Homo sapiens: one gene and its partner. The protein of the gene in region 1 interacts with the protein of each later gene in a pairwise test. Each region holds a gene or a part of one and is shown on either strand. Other genes may lie near its edges.

Region 1 (7,428 bases):
ACTATTAATGGGGGCAACAACATGGATGAATCTCAAAGTAATTATGCTGAATAAAAGAAGGCAGACAAAAAAGAACATTCATACTGCACAATTCCATCTTTATGAAACTTTAGAAACTACAAACTCCTATAGAGTGACAAAAAGCAGATAAATGGTTATCAGGAGAGGCATAAATGGACTTAAGTAGGTACATGGGGAGACTCTTAGGCGAGATGGATATGTTCATTTTCTTGACAGACGTATACATGTTAAAACATCAAATTGTACATTAAAAATATGTGCAGTTTTTTGTATATAAATTATCCTTCAATGAAGCTATTTTTAAAGTCCCAGAAAAAAATTTAAAGGACATACCTCCCTTCTCCAGCCAATCCTTGTGTTTTAGGTGGAAGTTCCTTAGCTTTAACAGCTAATATCTCATTTAAAATGATTCCTGTTTCTCTCCATCAGCCAGTTTTAAAACTGATGTAACAACAACAAAAAATTCACTTTGAAAAATTAAAAATCCAAGTCACAACATTGACAAACTCTCTGTAACATGAACTAGGCATATTAGCTGGTAACTTGGCATTGTTGCAGGTGAATGTGTGATTTCTGTTATCTTAATGCTAAAACTAGCTAATGGCTCCCTCAACCCAACCAACCCACCAGTATTATCTCGGAAGCCTCCCAGGGTATGTGCCCATGTGTCAACTTAAGACATACTGCAGCAATATAAACTCTTATTCTCTAACAAACCTAAAACAAACCTATTAAAAGAACTCTACCAGAATTTACCATAATGTAATTTTATCTCCAAGATGATAAACTTTTAAATTCTATATTGACAATCACATACAGCTCAGGTACAAAGCATGTATGAAACAGTAACTTCTAAAAAGAACACGCAGTTAACTAAAACCTTGAAAATTCAGGATACTTTATGTGAGTCAATATGCAGTACAACTTCCTTAGTAAGCTTCACGTAGTCCATGAAATACAATAGGAAATTCATGTCTTTGCTTTAATGAGAAAGACTAAGGTTGGCATTCCTGTGCCTTTGATTAAAGAGTGGTTCTGTACAAGTTGGGAAGGCCACTGTTTGTAATGATGACTGCAGCTTAGGGAAGTAAACATCTACCATAAGGGAAGAACCGAACATAAGCCTTCCTGGTAAGTTCAGCAAATTAACCCTCATGTCCTACAAATCAAGAAGGGACAGACTTAAAATTTGAAACTTGGTAGGACTTGAAATACAGACCAGCAAAACATCTTATGATAGGGATTTTCTATACTTTTATTATTAGGAGGATAAAGACACTAGAACATGTGGCGTGATTAGTGACATGTGAAAAGCTTAATGATCATTTTTTAAAAGCTAAAATATAACATACATACATGTATTTTGAATCATGAAATACTTTTATTCTTTTAAGTGACAAGTTCTCCTATCACAAGGTCCTCAGATTGGTCATTTCCTAGGAAACAAAGTTCACTATTTTAATCCCATCAAAGTCATGGTGGCCCATTAGGTATCAGGCGTCTTGAATTCTCACACTGACAACACTCAGCTGTGCAACTATACATGAATCATAGATTCTTTCTGGGCTAAAAGTATGCGACTCTAAAATGTGGAGAAGCCAAGAGTTTGAGTCTTACACTGTCTATGGCTTCACATACCAAGACCAAATAAGGTTCTATGTAATTCATATTTCCTTCCAGCAGCCTTGTGTAATAATCATGAATTTTAAAATTATTTTTTTAATGCCTACAGCAGATTACAAAAAAATACGATATTTTAAAATTTGTTTAAGTCTTCAAGAATGTATTAAACAGGTTTCCCCACCATACTTTTAAAGGCAATGATAAAAATCTTTTACATACTGATAGGTAAAAACAATTGCCAAATAACAGTTGCTCCTACATACATATAAATGATTTGTAACTGTTGTTCCTAAATACACATAAAATGTCATCCTAAAACTGACCAGGTATGGTTGTCCATTACTGGGTTAGTTGACATTTTGGCACCAAAACTTTTTCACGATTAGTCATTCTCTTCAAGCTACTGCTAGTTGACTTTTCTAAAGTTCTTAATCCATAGCAGTAAGGGGTAGATTTTTCTTAAAAATGAAGTAGCACTGAATACTGTGAATCAAAATAACCTTTTCATGGCATTATTAAGAAAGTGAAACCTTTAGGTATCTGTATTTTTAAAAATTAAATTATGACGTAAAATGGAAAACAAGAAAATCATGGAGATGCATAGGAAAATACAGCAGAAATATCCAGAAGTGCTGAGAGGTTGTCCTTGATGGTGAGACTATGGGTGGGCGTTCCTTCTGTTATATAGCTATTCATTTCCATAACAGAAAAAATCTACATAAATTTAACAACTGCCTTATAAAACGCGTAGGGTGTCTCTCCACTCCAAATACTAAAGAGATTAAGCCACAAAGGTCACACCAAAGAATCAAGACACTGCGATCGAAACAGAGTTTTTTGAACGCTGTTACAGATATATCCTCCTATGGCCTAGACAGAGCCCATGACCAAAAAGAGGAGATTCTCCTCATCTAAGAATCATTGAAAAAACAAAACAAAACAAACAAAAAACAACCTACAGTAGCAAAGAATGGCATCGTCATTTCTGCTCACACCACCATACAATGGAACGTGGTGCAATTAAATCCCACTTATTATAGAACCCCAAATACTCGATTCCAACCACGCCAACACCCTTGCAGTTCCCCCAGCCCACGTGTATATTCTCTGGATTGATGGGATGGGATTAATTGTCCCTCTTTGAAAACCTTACTCATAATCGCTACTCGCTGAGGAATATGAACCCGAGTCGCTGACCCGATCTTCAAAATCATAGTCCTCATCTTCTTCTTGTGAAGAGGGGTCTCCAGGGAGCTCGTCTGAGCTCGGACGCGAATCGCACGAAGCCACAGAGGCCATCGTCAGGAATGCAATAGCTACGAGTGGAGTAATTCAAATCTCGCAGCTATAGCTTGCTAAGGCCGCCATGTTGCCTCTGCTTGGGAAGGGGCAGAGGCCATGTGACCACCAATCCTTAGCTGCAATTGGTGGCAGGTCGCGTTGCCAGGGAGACGGAGAAGCTTCCCAGAAGAAACAGGGAGAACAGAAAGCAGCCAATGGGCTGAAACTTCCAGGAGGGCTTCTCAGTTGGAAGGATAGAAATAGCTAAAACTTCACCGCTTACGCTCTCCGGAACGCAATTCCTTAGAGCAGCATAACCTGTTAAAACAGGCGGAGATGCACTGGGCTTCTCACCTTTTTCTTCCAGTGCTGGATATCCAGTTTGCTCTTTGTCCTGTGTTTCTAATGCCTAACAGCTGTCGGTCAGCCTGGATTTCCTTCGAGGTGAAGGAAACCGCACTTTACCTTTCCTTAGGACCTCATCCGTGCAAGTAATGGACGCTTTTAAGCAACGCGATCTAGGTGTTAATGTAAATACGCTCCATTGTTTTATGGGTTTCATATTGTTTCGCAATTGCAAACATTTTCACGGTTATCCCAAGTGGGTATTGTAGAGTGCCACAAATGAGTGGCAATCCTGTGGAATCAACTTCATGTTCATTTTCTAACTCAAAATTTTATAATCTAATTAAGTGTTCTCATTATTAAAGTTGGAAGTGTAAACAGGTAAAATCTACCTGTTATTTATGAATACCTATATCAAGTATTTTTTAAGTACAAAAATAACAGCTAGCATTGATTGAGAGTCAGCCTTGGCTCTGCTCACTTTATTCATATACAATGCTGAGCATTCACATACTATGAAGTAAATATTTTCTCTATATTAAATAAGGAAACTAAGCTTTAGAGAAGTTATGCATCTTACTAATGGTTACATGGCTAGCAGTCAACAAAGTCAACCAAGAAATGAACCTAAGTCAATAACCATTACATGAAATTTCCTCCCTCAGAACCCAGTAATTCAACTATTAGATATCTACTCTGAGAAAGGATGCAAATTTATAAAATTTGTAAAAGTGAAAAGCTGAAAGCAATCTTAAAATGTCAAATAATGGGGGAAAAGTTAAATATATATAAAATATGATGATTATGATTTTAACTAGAATGTGTTCAAAGAGTAAAGCATGGGGGAAATGTTCATGTTGCAGCGTGTAAAAAAAGGATATAATGTTATTTTATGATCTAAAAGGCTGGGTGCTGGGGATTCTCTAATGGGCAATTATAACATAGTGATAAGTATTACAATAAATACAAGGTTCTAATGGAATATCCAGAAAAAACCAAAGTAGTATACGTGGGGCCATGACAAATTTCTTAGAGGAAGTATTAATTTATATTGTTATTATGGCATGGTTCCAACAGAGAAAGAGTAATGGGAGATGAGTCATCACATGGCCGGTATGGGTATATGCATGGAGAACTCAAAGGAACCTGAATTGTAGCTGTTGCAGGGGCAGAAAAACTCTACCTCCATCTTCTTAGGGTCCCAGCTGGGCCTGAGAATTAAACTTACCTAAAATAGATTAACAAAAGAAAAGCAACTGGAACTTGTTATACAGATGTTGAGGCCCTGCTCCACATCAACAGGATCAGAATCTCCAGTGGAGGGGCCTGGAAATCTCTATTTCAAACAAGTGCCCCCTGTGATTCAGCAAACTTGGGGAACTGCCCTAAATTTTCTCTCAGTTCTGTGCTTCATCTATACAGGCCAACTGGCCATTCCCTGAATAGGCTGGAACCCACTCCCACCTCGCAAATTTGAGCCTGGCAGACAGACCTCTCTCCTTGCTCTAGAATCCAAGTTTTACATGGCAGGGGAGCCCTCATAAAGAAATGAAGACCCAAAGAAGCAGTTAGAGTCAGTTAACTTATATACTGGATTGGACAAAGAATAGTTAGTTGTGAAGAAGCAACTAAACTAAATTGGGAAGCTTAAAAGATAAGTTATTTTAACAAGGTCTGTACAGAATTCTCTTGGTTTCACTTCTATGCCCTTGAGAATAAGAATGTTACATTTTTCTAGTATAGGGAGGGTGTCTTTCACATGGGAGCTTCATCTGTTGCTTTTAAGAAGCAGCACAAAGGCACTTGCTGTTTTTCAAGTGTATTAAACTTAAATGGCCAGGATAGTATATTTTACCTTCCTCACAGCCAAACAAGCTGCAGTATGCAGCTTATACTTTTAAGCTGAAGTTTAGTTGTATTTACATTAACTGTACATTACATGTACAAATATACATTAAACTATGTACATTTGAATTTGTATATTACATGTACAAATGTACATTAAACTATATACATTTGAATTTCCTAGGTTTTATGGTTTTGTTTTAATTTCTAAATGTGTTTTTATAGTGTTATAACAGCGATTACATTTTGTAATTTATTTGTATTAATTCATAAAATTGTTTTCATCTTATATAGGAGCTATAAAGCACAGATTATACCTCATTTATTTAAAATTATAATTAAAAAACTTAAGTCATCCATGGAAATCCACAATAGTTTTTCCTTAAAAGAGGTCTATATGTTACTAAAGTTGAAGAACAGGAGGAGGAGTTTGTAAAGGGGTAATGGGCAAAAGGAGTGTCAGAGGCATTTGAACCAGAGCGACTCCATCTTGAATAGGGGCTGGGTAAAATAAGGCTGAGACCTACTGGGCTGCTACTCAGGAGGTTAGGCATTCTTAGTCACAGGACAAGATAGGAGGTCGGCACAAGATACAGGTCACAAAGACCTTGCTGATAAAACAGGCTGCGGTAAAGAAGCCAGCCAAAACTTACCAAAACCAAGATGGCTACAAAAGTGACCTCTGGTCATCCTCACTGCTCACTATACGCGAATCATAATTAGAGTACAGTGAGCAGTGAGGATAATGAGCATTAGTTGCTAAAAGACACTCCCATCAGCATCATGACAGTTTACAAACGCCATGGCAATGTCAGGAAGTTATCTAATATATTCTAAAAAAGGGAAGACCCCTCAGTTCTGGGTACTACTCCCCCTTTCCCAGAAAACTCATGAATAATCCACCCCTTGTTTAGCATATAATCAAGAAATAACTATAAGTATACTCAGTCAAGCAGCCCATGCCGCTGCTTTGCCTATGGAGTAGCCCTTCTTTTTTCCTTTACTTTCTTAATAAACTTGCGTTCAATTTACTCTATGAACTTGCCCCGAATTCTTTCTTGGGTAAGGTCCAAGAACTCTCTTGGGGTCTGGATTGGGACCCCTTTCTGGTAACAGGAGGTCCTTGAGGTGGTAGGAGGGGATAGCATCCAAGGCACAGAAGGAGGGATATGACCTCCCTGGACACCTCTTCCCTAAAACTAGAAGAAAGAGCCAAAGAAGGGTGCTGGTGTGGATGGTGACTTGCCAGTTTCAGGCAGGAAGCTGAGGCAGTCTCCATGTGACAGTGTTTATCGTCTGGTAAGTAGGCTGCAACCTTGCCAGCTGAACGTGATGGAGGAAGTAATGGGGTCGGAAGTTTGAAGAAAGTGGAGACAGGAAGGAAGGGAAACAAATATTTCCATTAGCATTGAGATCCAACAAAAAATGTATTACTTTTAAAATCAGAGAAACAATATTATTTTAAAAAGCTGGAGTCCCTATACTCATTATTTTGAGTTTCATGGTAAAATATATATGCTTACTTTCACCACAATCTTAAACATTAGAAATGATTTAAGATTCCATTTCAAAATAAAAAGTGCTTTAGTTACCTCTTTAATAAGTTAACCTTTCCTTGTTTTAAAAGCAACTTATTGGAAGTAAAAAATAAAATAAGAAATTAAAAAAGGACATTTACAAATTTTAGGAAAATATCACATTTTCTTCCTACAAATTTTTCATCAATTTTTTTTTGTAAGCATCTAGTAGTTTCATACCCTGCCTCATAAACCTTGCATGGCACCTCCTTAAATAGAGAACAAAGTCCAAACTGTGTAGCTTCTTTTAAATTTTTTTCTCCAATTCTACAAACAATTGAACACCAATTCAGAATTAAATGGTTTATTCCATGTTACATCGTAAGTTAATCAAGCTGATCAACTTGTCTATTCAAAAGAATCAACTGGAGCTTGTTATACAGATTTTGAGGCCCTGCTCCACATCAACAGGATCAGAATCTCCAGGAGAGGGGCCTGGAAATCTCTATTTTAAACAAGTGCCCCCAGTGATTCAGCAAACTTGAGAAACTGCCCTAAACTTTCCCTCAGTTCTGTGCTTCATGCATACGGGCCCACTAGTCATTCCCTGAATAGGCCGGAACCCACTTCCACCTCCTGAATTTAAGCCTGGCAGACAGACCTCTCTCCCTGTTCTAGAATCCATCATCCACGTAACCTTGAGCAAATGACCTCCACAAGCTTCACTTTCCTTATCTGTAAATTCAGAAAATGGTACTTACTTCACAGGACTGTTTGGAATCTAATGAGTTAATGC
Region 2 (7,036 bases), on another chromosome or scaffold:
CAAAGTGACGGGTTTCAAACAATGTGTCATTTATTTCAGAAGCTTTATCACTTAAATATCTGAGCTAGTGAGAACTCTTGGTCCACATTAGAAAATGAAATCATTTAACAGCCAGGGCTGTTTTCCCTTTCAGTGATAACACAATGAGCTGCTAATGCTATCCATTAAAGGGAAAACTGGAACAAATGGCTCACCTCGGGCAGTTTAGACCAGTTGAAGGATTTCAGGGCATTTGTGGGCTGAGGAATGCTTTTCTTCTTCAGTGCTAGGCCCATTGGAGCACCAGGAGGTGGCATGATTGCCCCTAAGGGAGGAGGCCCTGGGGGAGGAGGAGGGCCACCTGGAGGGAGGGGAGGCGGTGGAGGGGGAAGCATCCCACCTGGTAGAGGTGGGGGTGGTGGGGGAGGAAGGAGAGATCCAGGCACAGAGGAAGGAAAGGGCCCTCCTGGTGCTCCAGGCGAGGGTCCACCTGGGATTGAAGCACAGACGGCCCTCTGAAAAGATAAAAATAGGAAAAGAAAGATCAATGGAAGAAGTAAATTCATTGAATGATTTAAGAGTCTGTAACTTGGCCTAAAATGTTTATTATAGAGAAATTCACCCTTCTGAGAATGTTTAAAGGATCGGTAAAGTCGAATGGACTCTTTTGGGCCTTTATGGACTCCAGTGCATCAACCTTTTGTACCTGACACTCAAGTACTTGTCTGGGATGCATTCATATCTCTCTCACTTCTTGCACCATCACAGACAGTCTGGTTTTCATGAAGTCAGTTTTCACTTTAAGAAGCTAATGCAATTTCCTTTGCTCTTAGATTTGTACAGTATTTAAAAATGCACCCCCAAACAGCCTCTGCTGCCTACATGATAGCAGAGGGAGTGAGTCTCCTAATTGTGATGAATCATGAGCCATTTCAGATTTTATTCCCCCAGTATGAAGTTCTCTACTTAAGGGTGAGGGGCTCTAGGGTCAGTGAGGCCTTGGCAGCTGCCCGTGAGCTGAGCGGAAGACCTCACCCTGCTGAGCTCATGGAGCTGTGCTGTGAGGTCCGCCACCTGCTGCTTGACTTGCTTATGCTCAGTAGTCTCCTTTTCAAGTTTCTCTTTCATTTTATTTAAGGTCTGCATCATCTCTTCCTTCTCTTGAGTCTTAGCATCACATTCTCGTTCTTTCTTTTCCAGTTTCTGTTGTAGCTCATTGTGCTCTACACGAGAAAACAATTGGACATGAAAACAGGAGAGTCTTCAAAGCTGAAGCATTTTCTCTAAAAGAAAATTGACTGAGGATGATGGCAGAGATTATGAGGATCTTTATTAGGTAAATATTATTCCTCTTCTCCATCAAAGGGAGCAACTCAAAGGCTAAATGATGTTTGTGCTTGGAGTGGGCTTCGGATGAACAATGTTATTATTAACTACGTAAGAGACTGAAGAAGAGAGCCTACACTCACAGTTCTAAACACAGAACAAAAGTTTGAGTGACTTCTTGTGGAGGAGAATGGTAACTGTTTGGTAGTTGATTCAGAATCTTGTCATTAAAATGGTCCTTTAGCAATACAAGGAAAAAAATAAATATTCAAATGGCCTCTTTTCACAAATTAGAAGTGAGACAAAGAGTAGTTCAGCTTTTATGAATTAGGTTTGCCAGCTCACATCCAACCAGCCGAAGGGCTGGAAGGGAGGGTCTCACCTGTGAGGAAGAGCTGCTGTCAGACCCAGGGTTTGTCCCCAGATGGAATCACTTCTCCCATCTCCCCTCAGAAGGCTACTTGAAGTATTTTATGCTTTCAGTAAACAATTATTAAGGCATATGAAAGCAAATGTTATCATCTCAGTATTAAATATCTTAAGGGGAGTGGGGTCAGTAGAACGCGAAAATCATGGTAACACAGGGGAGAAAAATATTGACTCTTAGCTGTAGTTTTACTGACTTCCTCAATCCTGCTATAATAAAACAGGGCATCCAATTCAGCATAATGCATATTCACATTGCCAATGAATACAAGCTTGCTGAAAGGAGTGATGAGTTTTGGAAAAGAGAACTAACAAAGTTTAGGCTGCGGATTTTTATTTCAAATACATGTCCCCAATTCCTATTCTTTTTATATCAATAAATCCACTAGAGGTATAACCCACTGGGGCCGAGCTATACTAATAGAGCTGGTCTCTATTTCTGAATTTGCTAACACATTTAAATTCTTGTTTTCTCTGTCTCTGACCTTCTCTCTCCTGAGTTCCCCCAAATTAGAGTTTACAGAGAGGAGTTCAAGCCACTAAAATCCCTGGATTTTGTCAGCAATCCACTTCTACCACTCTGTTGTTGCCTCCCTAACTTCTCCAGAAATACATCCAAAAATGACCTCTCTATATCCCATTTTCCTTCTTTTATCTCCATTTCATTCTTCTTTCACAATTTCAGGACTAGAAACTTGCCTTCCTCTCACTGGTCATTAGCTTTTGATGAAGCTGGCTGTGTCTCAGAATTACCTGAGAACTTTCAGCATTTCAAGACTCCCCAGACACTATTCCAAGAAGTCTATTTTGTAGGTCGACTACAGGGCTTAGATGATCCTGATGTATGCCAGGTTTGGGAAGCTCCAGCCTAAATGACTCTCTCCACAAATGGTATCTATTTACCATTCAGTCACTAAGCTTTTATTGAGCACTTCCTGGGTGTGCTGCCCTAAAGAGAATTCTCCCCAAATATTCTCTACATTTTAGGTCCACAGAACTTCTGTCTCCTTATCACTTCTACCCTTGGACTATTTTAACAAAATATGCCCTCTTGAATACAATTTTGCCACCTGAAGCTTCTAGAAAAAAACTAACATTTAACTATAATCTTTCCTCTTTTAGACTCTACCCATCATTTCACTTTAAAACACTAAAACAACCTGTTCCTCCCACTGACATTGGTGATTTTCTTTTGTACCATCTCAGCCACCTAAATCCTGCAACAGTGGCTATCATTTATTGTGCAACTAGTATGTGCCAGACACTATGCTAATGATCTTATATTTGTTTTGTCATTTAATCTTCACAACCACGCTGTGAGTCAGGATTAATCCTCAGGTTGCAAAGGTCGAGACTGGGGGAGAAGAGAGGAAATCACTTAGCCCATCCACACAGTGAGAAAGGGGGAGAGCTGAGACTCAGACCCAGAGCTCAGCACAGTGCCTGACACATACAGGCATTCAACAGGTATTCACTGAATGAACGAATGAATGAATGACTCGAAAGCTTACATCCTAAGTGCTCTCCTCAACCTGCACACTTGAGTCTCCATGCTCTAGAGTGTATTCCTAAAATATCCACTCATTGACTATTTTCTCTTTGGTTTAATCTCTTTACCCTGATTTTTAGTCAATGTTTCTATCATTTTTGTAGCAGTTTCTGAAATTTATTTTTTAAAATGCATGTGCAATGTCACTTATTTGGGAGCAATCTGAATACATATGAGGAACTCGTAACATAACAGTAGTTAGTTCACAATTGGTATTTTCTGATATCAGTTATGGCCCTGCTTTTCTGCTCAGTGGAAATGTGATGAGAGAAAAGGAAATGCTTAGGCATCTCTGGGACCTGCTTTTCAGCACATTAAATATTGGGGTGAATGCTATTGTATTTCATTGGCTGTGAGTGAATAACTTGGACAAGGAAAAGGAAGTCAGTTAACCAGTATGGTGAGAGCATGGTAGCTGGCAGTATGATTATTTCCACAAAGAGGCCAACTTCAATTTGTTAATATTTTAAAACAGGAAGGAAAATTACATACATTTCTCTGTATGGCTGGTACACTGATGGACATAAATGTCTCTCCTATCATTTGATACTAAGAGATAATATCAAAGACATATTCAAATACACACTAATAGCTGGCCAGCTAATGTTTCGTAACACATATCTCAGCAATGGTCACTGATTTTCTGAATGACTTCTCTTTTTATAACTGGTACCAAATCAAGGTCATGGACAGAATTGGGTTATTGAAACCAAGTAGGCCGGGCGCGGTGGCTCACGCCTGCAATCCCAGCACTTTGGGCAGCCAAGGCGGGTGGATCACGAGGTCAGGAGATTGAGACCATCCTGACTAACATAGTGAAACCCCATCTCTAATAAAAATACAAAAAATTAGCCGGATGTGATGGCGGGCGCCGGTAGTCCCAGCTACTCGGGAGGCTGAGGCAGGAGAATGACGTGAACTTAGGAGGTGGAACTTGCAGTGAGCCGAGATGGCGCCACTGATTCCAGCCTGGGTGACAGAGCAAGACTCCATCTCAAAAAAAAAAAAAAAAAAAAAAAAGAAACCAAGTGACCTGTTCTTCTCTTTTAAAATTTTGGATAATTCCTCAAGTCCCTTATTACATTTCTTAAAACCCAGTATGATTTAAAGAGCCATGACGGAGTAGGGGAAGGGTTTGAATTATTAGTAGTTAAGAAAATTTGATTTAAGGAATACTGAACAGCAAATGCTATAAGCTTTTCAAAACATTTACATGATTATAATAAAAGGATAAAATATTTGAGAATCAGTATGACAACTAAAATAGCTCAATTTAAGAAACTCAGTGCAAAATGCCCTTAAAAGATGGAAAAAGAAAGGCTGCCTGCACCAAGCTAACAAGAAACATCAATGTAAATTTCCAAAATATATGGAAATCAAGGTCACCCAATAACCAATAACACAGCCTCTTATCAGGGCCTCATTATTTACCTTTTCTCATTTTTTCCGCTTGTTCTTTCCACTGCTTAACTTCATTTTCATTAACCAACCTGTGTAAGAGTTCAAGGAGCATTTATTACAAAAAATATAAAAGGTCCACTGCTAACTGCATTCTCCCCAGGTACAAAAATAGTCTACTGCAGAGAAAATCCTCAGTGCATGCTTGAAACCCATTTAAGACCAGATGTTACTTAGCTATAGTGCATGTGTACAGTAACTCATATTTGACCCCTAGAACATTTCAGCTCTCCCAGCTGTTACTCTGAAGTAGGATAAAATAAATATCTTACATTGTCACCATTATCTCACAGCAGCAGAATAAGAAGAGACTTACATTCGTACGACATTCTTAATATTAAAGTTTTCCAAAGGTGTGGAGTCAGGGTCCTGTCCTTTGTCATTCTGGATAACTATCTGCTGTATAATTCTATCTAGTAGTAGCCAGTACTGAACAGTGTTGCCACTCCTCTTGTCTAAAAAAGAAAAGAATAGTGAAAAAAAATCTTCAAGTTGTTTCTAAGCTAGGATGAATATTTGTCAATGGTGGTCACCCTTTAAAGCCACCAAACCAGAGATGTTTATAACATCTGCACCAATGCTTCCCAAAGTTATGGAATTTTGACATGCAATGATCATTTATTTGATTGAGAGGTACCCTCTACCCCTTTCTGAACAGGTTGTAAGGCATATTTTTTATTTTTAAAATCAAAATTTTAATTTGTTTCATTTAAAAAATTTTGTAACACCCTTTAAGCCATGTAGACACACATACTTGGCTGTCATAAAACCAAGGCTTGGAATCCCTGGTGTGCACCCAATGTAATCAGCACTGTGCAGGAGCCAGAACCCATTAGGACAATGTCCAAACATTCAGAAGCACACATGTGAGTCACGAACACACTTACAAGGCATTTGGAGGCAGTGGTGCAGGATGGACATGAAATGCGGGTAAGCTTCACTATGTGTCAGCCTCTTCCTGGTCAGCTCAAACATCTGAGTTGCACTTTTTGTGTCTATGTGAACCTATTTCACAGGAAAAAGAAATCAAATCAAACATCTAAGTTCCTCAGTTTCCCCAGTGTAAAGTAAACTCAAAGCAAACAGAAGCTAATCCTGCCACTTAGGAAACAAAATAGAGCTTTGAGTTTGCTTTTAGGTTGCCCTAAAGTCCATGTGGACTCTACAACACACATTACAGACAGAAATAATGTGAACTGATGAATCAAACCAGAATAATTGTAAGCATACGTACCAGTTCAAATCTTTTGGCAAATTCTAGTTCATCTTCATTTCGGAGCATTTCAAAAAAGTCTAAATGCCTGAAAAATAATGAAAGAAAAGTTATTAAGTAGAACATCCTATAAACACAGGTGCATAAGACTGAGGACATTAATATCATGGTTTTTCCTGACTTTTCAGAGATATCTCAAAAAGGAACAATGTAACAAAATTTGAAAGCTTCAACTTTGTTCTTTCTAAGAAAAAAAGACATCACCTGAGCGAAACAGATCACAATATGAGAAAAATTTAAAAGTCTACGATGCCTAGCATACAGTAGGCAATTATTAAATTAAAACTAAATCTAAAAACAATCAAGTTCAGATTCCACTATGGATTCCCTTTATGGAAAAACATGCCCATATACCTACACTTAACTTCCAGCTGAATTAAAGATCACAAAAGAAATGATCATGCCATTCATTTATTCAGTCACATATGTATTGAGCTCCTACTATGTATTCTACACACCCAGGATACATTTTATGAAGACAAACACATCAGGGTAAAGGAAATAGAAAATGATGGCAGATGAGGTGAATAATGTACACACAGTGGTTAGAACAGGTCTCTCTCCAGGGAACTAGGGAACCAACAATTTGGACATCTGTGAAAGATCTTTTGAAGCTGAGGAAACAGCAAGCGCAAAGGCACTGATGCAAGAGTGTTCACAGAATATCAAGAAGAAGAGCATGTTGGAGTATATGAATATACAGGAGAGGAGAGCCGTGGTAGAGAAAAGCTCTGAAAGCAAGTTGGGATAGCTTAGACTCAGTGAAATGATAGCAAACGATGAAATGAACAGGTAGTGGAAATTAACATTCACAGAATGCCTATCAAAGGGGCTAAGTAATTCCATAGGTTTTATAGTCAATTTTTACATCATTCCTGGAAAATCACTGTCATTATCATCATCACCACCAGCACTATCTTTTGCAGTTATAAAAACAGCAAAATTCAGAAAAATTGAGTAACTTCACCAGGATACACAGGAATAAGAGGCAGGACTAGGATAGGATATGAATTCAGGTCTAATGC

Evidence for each region. The genes of interacting proteins can lie anywhere in the genome.
Region 2: the proteins of INTU (region 1) and DAAM1 interact in binary tests that used the Homo sapiens proteins (3 or more experiments, as listed by UniProt).

The regions. Positions count from the first base shown.
Region 1 is NC_000004.12:127,628,550-127,635,977, reverse strand, and holds the start of INTU (protein inturned), read right to left. Parts: upstream 3,022-7,428; 5' UTR 2,944-3,021; coding exon 2,798-2,943; intron 1-2,797. UniProt on the Homo sapiens protein: Plays a key role in ciliogenesis and embryonic development.
Region 2 is NC_000014.9:59,324,667-59,331,702, reverse strand, and holds part of DAAM1 (disheveled-associated activator of morphogenesis 1), read right to left. Parts: intron 6,040-7,036; coding exon 5,973-6,039; intron 5,744-5,972; coding exon 5,626-5,743; intron 5,194-5,625; coding exon 5,055-5,193; intron 4,771-5,054; coding exon 4,712-4,770; intron 1,203-4,711; coding exon 1,015-1,202; intron 495-1,014; coding exon 195-494; intron 1-194. UniProt on the Homo sapiens protein: Binds to disheveled (Dvl) and Rho, and mediates Wnt-induced Dvl-Rho complex formation. May play a role as a scaffolding protein to recruit Rho-GDP and Rho-GEF, thereby enhancing Rho-GTP formation. Can direct nucleation and elongation of new actin filaments.